Linked DNA regions of Homo sapiens. The protein of the gene in region 4 purifies or fractionates together with the protein of the main gene of each other region. This does not show direct contact. Each region holds a gene or a part of one and is shown on either strand. Other genes may lie near its edges.

Region 1 (3,356 bases), on a different chromosome or scaffold from region 4:
TATGCCACTCCAAAAAAACATGGCTACTGAGAAGTACAGATAAGAAAGGCCTGTTTCATTTCCAATCTTTTCCCTGGAAGTTGCTGGAGAAAATATTAAAATCAAGGTGACAGCTTTTTAAGTCATGACCTCACAAAAACAAACTGACACTCAATAATGCCCCACAATCTTCCATCTTTCTAGTGTACTCTCTGAGATGACCATCCATACCTCACTGCTGCTCAAAACTTCTTTGCCCCTCTCCTAACTGATGAAATATGAAAGGGCTTTTTAATCTCCATTGCCTAGGCCAAGACTTCATCCTTCTTTTTATCCCTTTCTTCTGAGTCATCTCTCTCCTTTTCTGTTTATGCTATTTTCATTAGCAGAATATATGTTCTAGTCCATGCATTCCTCTCCAGCTAGTCCCATTTCTCAACTCGTTCTCACAGCCATATTTTTCAAAGGAGTTGTCTCTACTTTTCACCCATCTACACTCCTTGACCCACCATCATCTAGTTTCTGCTCCAAAGCACAACGGAAATGGTCAAGCTCACCACTGACCTTCAGTTTTCTAAATTAAATATTAACAGATACCTTTATCTTTTTTTTTTTTTTTGAGACAGAGTTTCACTCTTGTTGCTTAGGCTGGAGTGCAATGGTGCAATCTTGGCTCACTGCAACCTCTGCCTCCCCGGGTTCAAGTGATTCTCCCCCCTCAGCCTCCTGAGTAGCTGGGATTTCATGCATGTGCCGCCATGCCTGGCTAATTTTGTATTTTTAGTAGAGACGGGGGTTTCACCATGTTGGCCAGGCTGGTCTCAAACTCTTGACCTCAGATGATCTGCCCGCCTTGGCCTCCCAAAGTGCTGGGATTATAGGCGTGAGCCACCGTTCCCAGCCTGATACCTTTATCTTTATTATAGTCAACCTTTTAAATTGATCACTCATTCTAGAAAGTCCTCCTTCTCTTGGCTTCTGAAATGACATTCTTCTCTTTGATCCATTGCTTTTCAGATCTTCTTCTGCCTGATCCTTAGATGTTGAGATTCCTTAGGGCTGGGTATGGTGGTGCACGCCTATCGTCCCAGCTACTCAGGAGAATGAAGCAGGAAGATCACTTGAGCCCAGGAGTTTGAGGCTATGAACTATGATCTTGCTGCTGCATTCTAGCCTGGGTGACACAGCACAGGGAGACCCTGTCTCAGAGAAAAACAACAACAGAAGATTCCTGCAGTCTTCCTCCAACATACATCTAAAGTGTTTTCATTATTCTGCATCTCTTTTGGCCATTCCTTACTCCAAGACACCATTATTTCTACTTAATTTATCTTCTCATTTCTTTATTCCTCCTTCGAATCCAATATTAAAACCCAAATCAATGTCTGAGCACAATGGCTCATGCCTATAATCCTAACACTTCGGGAGGCCAAGACAGGAGAGTCACTTGAGGCCAGGAGTTTGAGACTAGCCTGGGCAACATATTGAGATTCACCCAGGCTGGAGTGCAGTGGTGTGATCATGGCTCACTGCAACCTCTACCTCCCGAGTTCAAGCAACTCTCCTGCCTCAGCCTCCAAGTAGCTAGGACCACGGGCATGTGCCAGCATACCTGGCTAGTTTTTGTATTTTTAGTAGAGATGAGGTTTTACCATGTTGCCCAGGCTGGTCTCGAACTCCCAAGCTCAAGAAATCCACCTGCCTTGCCTCCCAAAGTGCTAGGATTACAGGCGTGAGCCACTGCATCCAGCCCAAAAACATTAAAAAAAATTATCCAGCTGTGGTAGTGTGCACCTATAGTTCTAGCTACTCAGAAGCTGAGATGGGTAGATCCCTTGAGCCCAGGAGTTCAAAGTTGCAATCAGATATGATCTTACTACTGCATTCCAGCCTGGCCAACAGAGCAAGACCCTGTCTCAAAAAAAAAAAAAAAAAAAAAAAAAGAAAAGAAAAGAAAGGAAAATTTTAAGTTTCAAATTTTTGAAACTGCATCCCCAGAAGACACCTTGAAAGACCTTGATCCAGAGGTACCCAGTAAGCCACACCTGGATTCCTGACCCACAACACAGAAATGATGAGATAACGTAGTTGTTTTCAGCGGGTAAAAGAAACCCAAAACAAATAAGGATCACATCTCTGCCCTTCAAGGAAATCTAAGGTTTCCTACAGGTCTTAGAATAAAATCCAGACTCCTGATTATGGCTGGAAAGGTCTTATTGGACCTAGCCCCAGCCTACCTTTCAGACCTTATCTTGGGCCGCTCCCTTAATCCAGCCACGTTTTCAGTTTCAGGTACTCAGCAAGATCTTTACAAGGGGCTCCCTCATCCTGGAATGCTCCTTCTGGCTCTTTACTTGGCTGACTCATTTCAGAAACGAGCTTAAAGTTCATCTCTGAGGGTCCTTCCCTGACCACCCTCTCTATTATCTGTTTCACTATGATGTTGGTTTCCTTTATAATACATCATAATTTGAAATTATTTTGTTTTCCTATTTACTATTTCCTTTTTGTTGTTGTTTTTTTTTTTTTGAGACGGAGTTTCGCTCTCGTTGCCCAGGCTGGAGTGCAATGGCGCAATCTTGGCTCACCGCAACCTCCGTCTCCCGGGTTCATGTGATTCTCCTGCCTCAGCCTCCCGAGTAGCTGGGATTACAGGCATGGGCCACCACATCCAGCTAATTTTGTATTTTTAGTAGAGACGGGGTTTCTCCATGTTGGTCAGGCTGGTCTTGGGTCTGGGGTACTGTTTTCTTTTATTTCTTTGGTCTCCCACAGGAGAGCGTGAGCTTCGTGAAATTAGGGCTCACAATTCACTTTTATGTTCCTGTGTTCCTTGTGCCAGGCAAACTGCCAGACACATAGTAGAGGTCTCATAATATTTGTTAAATAAGAAAAATGCATCTTTATTATTATTTTCTAACACAGTCCATATAACTATCTAAGGCACACGTTGAGAGTTTCATTTAACTCAATCTGAGATGAGACCAGATTTCCCTAAACTATGCGTGCTTCCAGTGAACCTATTTGATTTCTTGTCTCATTTATTTTATGAATGCATTTTTATTGGCTTTTGTTTCCCCCTTACTAGGGTATTCTCATAGCAAAGAGAAGATACAGAATTTAAGGTAAGAATAATGGAATGGGGTTGGGAAAAGGTGAGAATCTTGGAAGTCCCTACTCTAACATGTCTGATCTTTTCTCTGAGAAATCCTGTCCTGGGGCTTTGAGATCTGAGTTTATACTTCCTTCTTTCTCTAGGTCTAGTTATGAAGTGAAAATGTAACATGCTACTGTGTGTACTTCCTGACACCTCTAGCTTCTTTAGTTCTAAAGTTAAGGTATAGAATTTATCACCCTAATAATACAACATGCTTATT
Region 2 (3,500 bases), on a different chromosome or scaffold from region 4:
GCAGGAATAGTTTGTCAGATTACATAATTTTTTACAAGGAAGGCTGGGGCCCATGTGGAAATTATGGAATCTATGTTGGTATATTTTGATGGGATGGAAGTATGGTAGATCTGGAGAGAGAGAAGTTCAATCTAAGTAACATTATTACCGGGTAGAGTAATGAGGTGGGGTGCTTTGGATGTGAGGGCACAGGTACATTGTTCAAGTGGAGAGTAGGATGAGGGACTTCTGGAGACTAGCTTTGCTTAGTGTGTAATTTTGTGCATTGTTATGATTATAATAACTTGTAAGATCAGCAATTTGGAAGTAAAGAAAAGCAGTGCTGTGCATCATAGTGTGGAGTTTGTAATAGTTCTAGGCTGTTTTGCAAGATGTAGGTGCTTTACAAATATCCATTGGTAGTAATGGAAGTGCTCTGTCTTATCACCTATTTTAGAAATCTGGAGAGGCAGAATAGCACGAACCCTGGAGCCAGACTGCCAAAGTTCAGAACTGGTACAGCCACTTACTAGCCTATTGCACTGGCCCTATGCTGACTTGGGGTGGCCAAAAGGGAAGAAAATGGCATATTTAAGCAGAGAGGGGGCCAGAGATAGCACTCTGTGAGTTTTCCATGGTTCTTACATGGTCTGAAAGAGATCTGGATGTTCTCACATATGACTAGTGAAGGAAATAGAAGTTAGTAGAGTGAGAGCCAGGAAGCCTGTCATTAGGCTGCTATTGTGAGGGAGGGACCATGTAGTAGACAGAGGTTGTGGGAAGGGCAGATTCATTTCATTGCCCACAAAAATTTGTGCTCCCTCTTGCTTGCAACATTTTTTTTTTTTTTTTTTTTTTTTTTTTGGAGACATGGGGTATCGCTCTGTTGCTCAGGCCAGAGTGCAGTGGCAGGATCTTGGCTCACTGCAACCTTCGCCTCCTGGGCTCAAGTGATTCTTGTGCCTTAGCCTTCCGAGTAGCTGGTACTACAGGGATGTGCCACCGTGCCTGGCAAATTTTTTGTATTTTTGGTAGAGATGGGGTTTCACCATGTTGCCCAGGCTGGTCTCTAACTGCTGAGTTCAAGCGATCTGCCCGCCTCAGCCTCCCAAAGTGCTGGCATTACAGGTGTGAGCCACTGTGCCTGCCACTAGTTTTTCACTAGTGAATGTGAATAGAAATCAATTTGTTGTCACTTCTGGGTTGAAGTGGCAGAAAAAATAGGTATTCTTTCTTCACCTTCTCTTTTCTAATTCAAGGGCCAGATGCAGAGGTTTAGGCTCTTAAGGGATAGTAAAACCATAAGATTGGAATGTTCTACAGTCCCTAAATTTACCATGTGAAAGAAATTTGTGTACCAAATAGGAATACCCACAATGGATTGTAATATTAATGAGAAATTTTAATTGTGTGAAGCTACCGAAAATCTGGGGTTTATTTGTTAAGCAGCTAGTGTTGCCTTAAGTATAAGCCAGGGACTGGATAGACGAGGTAGTCGAGACTGTAATAATATCCGTACCAGCAGGAGCTGAGGTGGGTGGGGCCAAGTTAGGAGATCCTCTGGATACTGTTCCAACATATTCATCAGCATGTGCCATTGTGACTCTGTGAGGGCCAATATTCAAACCTTAGAGGCCTGTGAGGATCCCCAGGGCAATCCATGGGTCTGTATTCAGGCTAATCATAATACTCCAGATGCCCATGAAAGCTTTATCTTACGCCCAGTCACCATGATAAGAATGAGGAACAGAGAAAATCTATACAAGTCTGAAGAGTTTTCTTAAAGTAGGGTTTCTTAACTTGACTCTGTTGATATTTTGGGCTGGATAATTCTTTGTTGTGTGTTCCTGTGCATTGTAGAATGTATAGCACCATCCCTGGCCTCTACTCACTAGATGCTAGTACCATCTTTCTTAATTGTGACAATGAAAAATGTTTCAAGATATTGCCAGATGTTCCCTGGGGACAAGGTCACTCTCAGTAGAGAACTACTGCTTTAAAGATTGAGTGAATGAGTGAATCTGAAAGAAATGATTTTAAATGGAAAGAAACTATTATCCTTAATTAAAGAACTTTTTCCCCTTTTAGGGGTTGGGTAAGGTTCATGGGGAGCAGTTCATTTCTGTATATCCAATAAAGGAAGCTATGTTGTTTTTATAAAACATCCTAGTTTCTAGTGTGTGTGTGTGTGTTTTCCTCTCTTCCTTGATATACTATATATATGTTTGTATTATTTTTTGAGTGACAGAGTCTCCTCCTGTCTCCTGCACTCCAGGCTGGAGTGCAGAATTCCTGAGCTCAAAGGATCCTCCTGCCTCACCTTCCCCAGTAGCTAGGACTACAGGTTTGTGCCACTGTGGCTGGCTACTTTATTTTTTTTGTACAGACAGGGTTTCGCTATTTTGCATAGGCTGAATTTGAACTCCTGCCTCCCAAAATGTTGGGATTACAGGCATGAACCCTGGTACCCAGCCTTAATGTTGATTCACCTTTCTCTTTATCAGCTTTAGAAATTACTTGAATTTTCCATTTATTACCTTGTGATTATTTCTTCTAAACCAGTAGCTGTACTTTTTATTGGCTAGACTAAGCTTGTCCAATCCCTGGCTGGTGAGCTGCGCACGGCCCAGGACAGTTTTGAATGCGGCCCAACACAAATTCATAAACTTTCTTAAAACATAAGGAGATTTTTTTGTTTTTTAAAGCTCATCAGCTATTGTTAGTGTTAGTGTATTTTATGGGTGGCCCAAGACAATTCTTCTCTTCCAGTGTGGTCCAGGGAAGCCAAATGATTGGACACCCCTGGCCTAAACAAATACACGTTTTTTCCCCTGTAATCTCAGCTGTCATGTCCACAGGTTGTCTCTAAATTATGAAAACCAATAAATAGTGTTGATACCATGACTGTGTAAGTATTATTTAATGCTAAGCCAGATAATGTGCTTAGATGATTATTCCTTTTCTGTCCCTGGGCTGCCAGAAGAAACATGTTGATAATATAGAGAATTAGTAGACTTTATTTATTTTATCAATTCTGACCATCAAATTAAAAAAAAATTTGGATATGACCAAAATCTAACTTTGGAATTAAAAAAGTTTTTGAATAGGACTTCCTGTTTTTCTTAGTGTCTTAAATTGCCCTCTTTTCTTGTACTATATGCCTCTATTATAGCCTCCCCTACACCCCAGCCCCCCCACACCCCAACTCTTCAGCATACTGCCTTTTGTGCTGCATTCTCTATTTATCTGTATTTGTCTGTAACTCTGCCTCCATTTGGACTCTTCTAGGTCTTTTCTTGTAACTTCCTTTCTCCTTACTCTTGAATTGGATCCATTCTGTTATACATATTTTTTTTTCCTTTTTTTTTTTTGCATCTGCTTGATCTGTTTATTGGAGTACATCTTCAAATAACTCTTTGAAAAAGAAGTATGTATGAGAGGCAAACTTTCCGAATTCTGTGTAAAAAAGTCTCCATTCTATTCTCACAAATGATTGATAATTTGGCTGGGTACAATATTGT
Region 3 (3,500 bases), on a different chromosome or scaffold from region 4:
TGTAGTAATGTCTATTCTAGTCATGCACACTGGTGTTAACTTAATTTTTGTTGTTTTTTGTTTTTCAGTTCTAATCTCATTTTAGCAAAAACTTACCTTTTTAAATATCCTGTTGCATTGTAACATATACTTAGGTCCACAAATCTGAGCTCAGTGAGGATTATCCCATAGGCTTCTTTGTTTTTCGTGTCAGTCAATGCCAAATCAAAGCCCTTTGGGCTGGTGGTTTCTGTAGAACCACCCTGATTCAGTCTGAGGGCAAATAATCTCCTACACTTCAGGCTCACAGATTCATCTTTGGCTCATGCTAAGACATGTCCCGAGGTCATGTAGTTGAATGGCAGCTAAACTTATCTGAGTTGTTTAAAGTATTTTCTCCCCAGTGGCTTAGAGTTGAATTTGGATAAATCTGCTCTCTGTACAGTGTAACCACATTTGGCAGGTGCTCAATAAATGTTTGTGGAGTGAATGAGAGAGATGAAAGGAGACATCAGGATGGGTATGTCTGGTGAATGTGGCTTTCTCCTTCCTTGGAGAGCTGACCATTGACAGGTGTGCCAGTTTGTTACAGCTGTGTGACAAACAACCCAAACAACAGGCATCTTATTGTTTCTTGTGATTCTGCCTGGTTGGGCTCAACTGGATGGTTCTTCTGCTGGTATCGCTTGGGGCCTCTTGATGGCAGGTAGGGCTGGAATGTTTAATATGTCTGCATTTATGTGTGCAGCCCTTCGGCAGGGACACTGAGTTGTCTGGATCTCTCTCTCTCTCTCTGTGTGTGTGTGTGTGTGTGTGTGTGTGTGTGTGTGTGTGTCAGTCTTCCACGCTATGGCCTCTGAAGCTCAAAGCTCCTAGAATCACAGGTCTGGAAGTTGCCAGAGCTGTAACTTGCCCCACATCACTTCCACTGCAGGCCCAGATCCCAGGGGAGGGAACCTTGCAGGGGTCCAGACACTGTTGCTGTGGCCATGGGTTCCTCTTGCCTGAGCTGATGCTGAGGTTTCTCCCATGTCTCCCAGATGCTCAGTGACCTCCAGGAGTCTGTGGCCAGCTCTCGCCCCCAGGAGGTGTCAGCATACCTCACCCGCTTCTGCGACCAGTGCAAACAGGACAAGGCCTGCCGCTTCCTCGCGGCCCAGAAGGGGGCCTACCCCATCATCTTCACTGCCTGGAAGCTGGCCACTGCAGGTGACCAGGGCCTTCTGCTCCAGTCCCTCAATGCCCTGTCGGTGCTGACTGATGGACAGCCAGACCTCCTGGATGCCCAGGGCCTGCAGCTCCTAGTGGCCACGCTGACCCAGAATGCTGATGAGGCTGACCTGACCTGCTCTGGGATCCGCTGTGTGCGTCACGCTTGCCTGAAACATGAACAGAATCGGCAAGACCTGGTGAAAGCTGGCGTGCTGCCTCTGCTGACTGGTGCCATCACCCATCATGGCCACCACACTGACGTGGTCAGGGAAGCCTGCTGGGCCCTGCGTGTCATGACCTTCGATGACGACATCCGTGTGCCCTTTGGCCATGCCCACAACCATGCCAAGATGATTGTGCAGGAGAACAAAGGCTTGAAGGTGCTCATCGAAGCCACCAAAGGTAAGAGCTGGGGGCCGACACGAGCCAGCGAACAAAGTGGGCGGGTCAGATGTGACCAGAGTGAGGGTCAGGGCTCAGGACTGCTTTAGGCACGGCAGGCTCAAGGCTCCACTCGCCCCTCGGCTTAGACCTGCCTGCATGGCAGCCCTCGTGAAGAGTCTCCCCATGTTTTCTAGTGGCTCCAGGAGAATTCCAGGCCAGCACTCAGGGGCCAGGAGCAGGCCACAATCCCATCTCTGGAGCTGTCTGGGGAAGGGGCTTGCTGTGTCCAACTCCAGGGGCTGAGAGTGGGGAAGGGGGACCTCCCCAGAGGGAAATAAGAGGACTCGGGGGGGCTGGCTGGCATGCACCATGGCAGTCTCAGCTGGATGTGTACACGCTTGATCATATTCAGCCACAAATCCTTAGGCATATTCATGTGTCTGGCTCCAGGGTGACCATGGTGAGCCAGCCCTGGGAGGTCACAGTGCTGACCGTCAGACCCTAAAGCTTCTGTCTTAACCCCTACCCCCATCCCATCCACTGAACCCACCAGAAAAGTCCTGATTGACACACAGAAGGTGTTAGGAGGATGAGTTCCCCTTTCTTGCCTGCCCCGTCACTCTGGTTCTGTGGCCAGGCCTGTGTGGGGGTTCTGGCTCTGTCTGCTGAGGAGATGGGCCCACCTCAGTCTCCCTTCCACACCTCCAGCAAGGCTGAAAATGAGTCCCGACCTTCTGCAAAGTCAGGCTGCTTTTCCAGGAGGTAGCTCACATCTTTCCTGTTTTATTTATAGGAGCTCCAATCAGTTAGGTTTCTGCCAGAGACAGGATATGTATATATGAAGAGACTTTTTGGTAAGGAATGGGATCATGCAATTATGGCAAGTCTGTACTCCATAGGGCAGGCTGGAAACCCCCAGGCAGTCCCCTTTTCGGGGAAACACCTCAGTTTCCTTCTAAGGACTTCAGCTGATGGAATGAGTCCCATTCACATTGTTCAAGGTCATCTCCTCTACTTAAAGGCAACTGGGCTGGGCATGGTGGCTCATGCCTGTAATGTCAGCACTTTGGGAGGCTGAGGTAGAAGGATTGTTTGGGCCCAGGAGTTCAAGACCAGCCTGGGCAACATGATGAAACCCTGTTTCTACTAAAAATACAAAAATTGCTGGGCGTGGTGGTGGGCACCTGTAATCCCAGTTACTTGAGAGGCTGAGGCACAAGGATCTCTTGAGCCTAGGAAGGAGAAATTGTGGTGAGCCAAGATCACGCCACTGCACTCCAGCCTTGGTGACAAAGCGAGACTCTGTCTCAAAAAAATTAATAATAATAATAATAATAATAGATAGCTGATTGTGGATGGTAACCATGTGGACAGAATACCTCCACGGCAACACCTAGATTGGCATTGGGTGGAACTGCAGAGGGCTACAGGTGGTCACAGGAACTGACCGTCGCAGCCCTGTGTAGGTGCAGGATCTTCGCCCTCTTGGCGTGAGTGCCGGCACCTGCTTCCTGGTGCAGCGCCTCTGGGCTCCATCTGCGGCTCCTGTGTTCAGTTTTGGCCACGTCAGCCCAGTCCGTATGTGTCCCTCTATGGTTCTGGAGTTTCCTGTTGCACTTAGAGAAGCCATTCCTACCCCATGATCATAAAAATAGTCTTCAGATGTCTTTTTTTTTTTTTGCACTATTATAGTTTTCTTTTTTTAGGTGAGACCATGAGTTGGTATGGAATTTATTTGGGGCATGATGGAAGGAAGCGGGTTGGGGGGCACATTCTTAAGTCTTCCCAGCAGCCAGCAGGGGGCACTGCAGGCCCAGGTAGCCCCTGGTGTTCCCTGGGGCCTTCCTGGTGCCCGTGGCCACTCCAATAGGCAGAAGGGCTGGACTCTTCCAGTGGAGCAGGATCTCCACCAAAACAGAGGGCCC
Region 4 (3,500 bases):
GATTCCTTGAGACTGCCTTTAAGATACAAGTTGTGGCAGATTCACATAAGGAAAAAAAGATACAATAAGAAGCTTTTCCTGACTCTTATTTTTTTACTATAACATCATTTTCCTTTTTTTTTTTTGAGACAGAGTCTCGCTCTGTCGCCAGGCTAGAGTGCAGTGGTGCGATCTCAGCTTACTGCAATCTCTGCCTCCTGGGTTCAAGTGATTCTCCTGCCTCAGCCTCCGGAGTAGCTGGGATTACAGGCACGCGCCACCACGCCCGGCTAATTTTTGTATTTTTAGAAGAGAGGGGGTTTCACCATGTTGGCCAGGATGGTCTTGATCTCTTGACCTTGTGATCTGCCCTCGGCCTCCCAAGTGCTGGGATTACAGGCGTGAGCCACTGCACCCAGCCCATTTTCCTTTTTTTAAACTTAAAAAAAATTTTTTAAATGTACATGTTCCATATGTGCTAACATGTCTAAACCTTAAATTAGTTTATCATAATGTCATGTTTTAGATTTTACATTTCATTGATTATATGAATATTCTGTTTATTTATTTATTTTATTATTATTATCATTTTTGAGACGGAGTCTTGCTCTGTCGCCCAGGCTGGAGTGCAGTGGCGCGATTTCGGCTCACTGCAAGCTCTGCCTCCTAGGTTCACGCCGTTCTCCCGCCTCAGCCTCCCAAGTAGCTGGGACTACAGGCACCCGCCACCATGCCTGGCTAATTTTGTTTTTGTATTTTTAGTAGAGACGGGGTTTCACCATGTTAGCCAGGATGGTCTCAATCTCCTCACCTCGTGATCGGCCTGCCTTGGCCTTCCAAAGTGCTGGAATTACAGGCATGAGCCACCATGCTTGGCCTATTTATTATTTTTTTTGAGAGAAACAGATGCGGTAGGATCATAGAATACTCAGACCGGGAGGAATTTTTTTTTTTTGAGACGGAGTTTCACTCTTGTTGCCCAGGCTGGAGTGCAATGGCGTGATCTCGGCTCACCGCAACCTCTGCCTCCCGGTTTCAAGCGATTCTCCTACCTCAGCCTCCTGAGTAGCTGGGATTACAGGCAGGCACCACCACACCTGGCTAATTTTTTCTATTTTTAGTAGAGATGGGATTTCTCCATGTTGGTCAGGCAGGTCTCAAACTCCTGACCTCAGGTGATCGGCCTGCCTCGGCCTTCCAAAGTGTTGGGATTACAAGCATGAGCCACCGCGCCCAGCCTACATCATTTGCCTTTTTAGTTCTTCAACACTTCCTTGTAAAATCTGGCGTAAAATTTCAAATTCTGACTTTGGATGTTACAATACGTATCCTTTTCCCTTGCTTGCTTTCTGTTTTTGGTCTCCAAGATGGAGTCCAGCTTTGTCGCCCAGGCTGGAGTGCAGTGGCACGATCTCGGCTCACTGCAACCTCCACCTCCCAGGTGCAAGCAATTCTCCTGCCTCAGCCGCCTGAGTAGCTGGGATTACAGGCGTATGCCACCATGCCTGGCTAATTTTTGTATTTTTAGTAGAGACGGGGTTTCACCATGTTGGTCAGGCTGGTCTCGAACTCCCGACCTCAAGTGATCCGCTTGCCTTGACCTCCCAAAGTGCTGTGATTACAGGTGTGAGCCACTGGGCCCAGCCTCGCTTTCTTTCTTTTTTTTTGAGATGGAGTCTCACTCTGTTGCCCAGGCTGGAGTGCAGTGGTATGGTCTTGGCTCGCTGACGCCTCTGCCTCCCGGGTTCAAGTGATTCTCCTGCCTCAACCTCCTGAGTAGCTGGGATTACAGTTGCCTGCCACCTCGCCCGTCTATTTTTTGTATTTTTAGTAGAGGTGGGGTTTCACCATATTGGCCAGGCTGGTCTCAAACTCCTGAACTCATGATCTGCCCACCTTGGCCTCCCAAAGTGCTGGGATTACAGGCATGAGCCACTGCACTCAGCCTGCTTTCTTAATTCCTCACTATTGACTAGTAAGCTTTTTCCATGCAAGCCCTATTCGAAACTCCTTGGCTTACAGCCACACTTAAACAGAGTGTTCTTTCATACTCTCCCATATGCTTGGGTCATCTTCTGTATGTAATATGTCAGTTGAGGGGTCCCCAGCCAGTCCTTCTTAAAGCCTGACTATTCACTTTGGCTCATTCCTTCAGTAACCATCCCTTATGCATTTACTATATGCCATGCATTGTGTGGAGAGAAAAGAGAAATGATAGGTCCCATCTTTCTCCAGAGATCGTGATTAATGGAGAGACAGTAAACATGAAGCATATTTGATTACAGTACATTGGATGGTAAGAGCTTGTATAGGAGCACCACTTGCCCCAGCATGGGGGAACTTGAGGAGATGATCCTTAAACCAAGCCTTGCAGGATGAGTTGAATTAAGTAGACAAAGAAGGAAAATGATGTTCTAGAGAGAAGGTATAGCATATAAAAAGGCTTAGTGACATGAGAGGGTTTGGTATATTTAGAGTGTTATAAGTTAGTTGCACAGTCAGTAGGACCTTGTGGGCATTTCTGGTTGGGAGGGAGAGGTCATAGGAACCTCTTCCTCAAAGTATAAAGCACCTGAAACTTGTCCCTTCATACTTAATTTTCTACCTCCTGCCATCTCTTTACTTTGAGTATAGTAAGAGCAAAATACCTACATAGATAGATCAGGGAACCCTAGGCTAGCTGTTTCCAAAGGTAAACATCCCTCATGTCCTACCCATAGTTGCCTCCCTAGCTCATTTGCAGAAAATGTTTTTGGATTGTCTGAAGGGTATTAAAAATCCCTATATAAGCATTTATCTTAGCATTTATGTTGTCAGTATTTACCTACTTTATGGTTTATTTTTCGTAAGTGGATTATATATTGACAGTTTCAAATGCTGATGGCAGGAGTTCTTTTTAAAAAGTAGGCCAGGCATGGTGGCTCGTGCCTGTAATCCCAACACTTTGGGAGGCCAAGGTGGGTGGATCACCTGAGGTCAGGAGTTTGAGACCAGCCTGACCAACATGGTGAAACCCCATCTCTACTAAAAATACAAAAACTAGCCAGGCATGGTGGCAGGCACCGGTAATCCCAGCTACTTGGGAGGCTGAGGCAGGAGAATCGCTTGAATCCAGGAGGCAGAGGTTGCAGTGAGCCAAGATTGCGCCACTGCACTCCAGCCTGGGCAACAAGAGCGAAACTCCGTCTCAAAAATAAATAAAATAAAATAAAATAAAATAAATAAATAAATAAATAAAAAGTCAGTATTCAGGAGCTGAACCCAGTCACTCTCCCACACTGCAAGACCATTACAGTAGTCCATATATGAAAAAAAAAATCATTATTCTTTTATGGTGCTTAGGAGAATACTAGGATAGGCACTATTGGAACTATTAGGAAATTTTAATGAAAAATGTTGATCATGCTGTCCTTAGGTTTCATCTCTAGATTCTTTGGGTTTTTTTGTGTCTGTTTATTCATGCTTTCCTCAAATTTTTTTAACTTAGAATTTTTAACTTTAAATTTTTCTGTATTGTATTT

The links. Proteins that work in one complex are often made in the same cells at the same time.
Region 1: the proteins of NDC1 (region 4) and HAVCR2 purify together in Homo sapiens (co-immunoprecipitation; one large-scale study listed by IntAct). This does not show direct contact.
Region 2: the proteins of NDC1 (region 4) and OSBPL8 purify together in Homo sapiens (co-immunoprecipitation; one large-scale study listed by IntAct). This does not show direct contact.
Region 3: the proteins of NDC1 (region 4) and ARMC6 purify together in Homo sapiens (co-immunoprecipitation; one large-scale study listed by IntAct). This does not show direct contact.

The regions. Positions count from the first base shown.
Region 1 is NC_000005.10:157,088,689-157,092,044, reverse strand, and holds part of HAVCR2 (hepatitis A virus cellular receptor 2 precursor), read left to right. Parts: intron 1-3,067; coding exon 3,068-3,104; intron 3,105-3,356. UniProt on the Homo sapiens protein: Cell surface receptor implicated in modulating innate and adaptive immune responses. Generally accepted to have an inhibiting function.
Region 2 is NC_000012.12:76,549,772-76,553,271, reverse strand, and holds part of OSBPL8 (oxysterol-binding protein-related protein 8), read left to right. Parts: intron 1-3,500. UniProt on the Homo sapiens protein: Lipid transporter involved in lipid countertransport between the endoplasmic reticulum and the plasma membrane: specifically exchanges phosphatidylserine with phosphatidylinositol 4-phosphate (PI4P), delivering phosphatidylserine to the plasma membrane in exchange for PI4P, which is degraded by the SAC1/SACM1L phosphatase in the endoplasmic reticulum.
Region 3 is NC_000019.10:19,050,603-19,054,102, forward strand, and holds part of ARMC6 (armadillo repeat-containing protein 6), read left to right. Parts: intron 1-1,019; coding exon 1,020-1,593; intron 1,594-3,500.
Region 4 is NC_000001.11:53,828,297-53,831,796, reverse strand, and holds part of NDC1 (nucleoporin NDC1), read left to right. Parts: intron 1-3,500. UniProt on the Homo sapiens protein: Component of the nuclear pore complex (NPC), which plays a key role in de novo assembly and insertion of NPC in the nuclear envelope.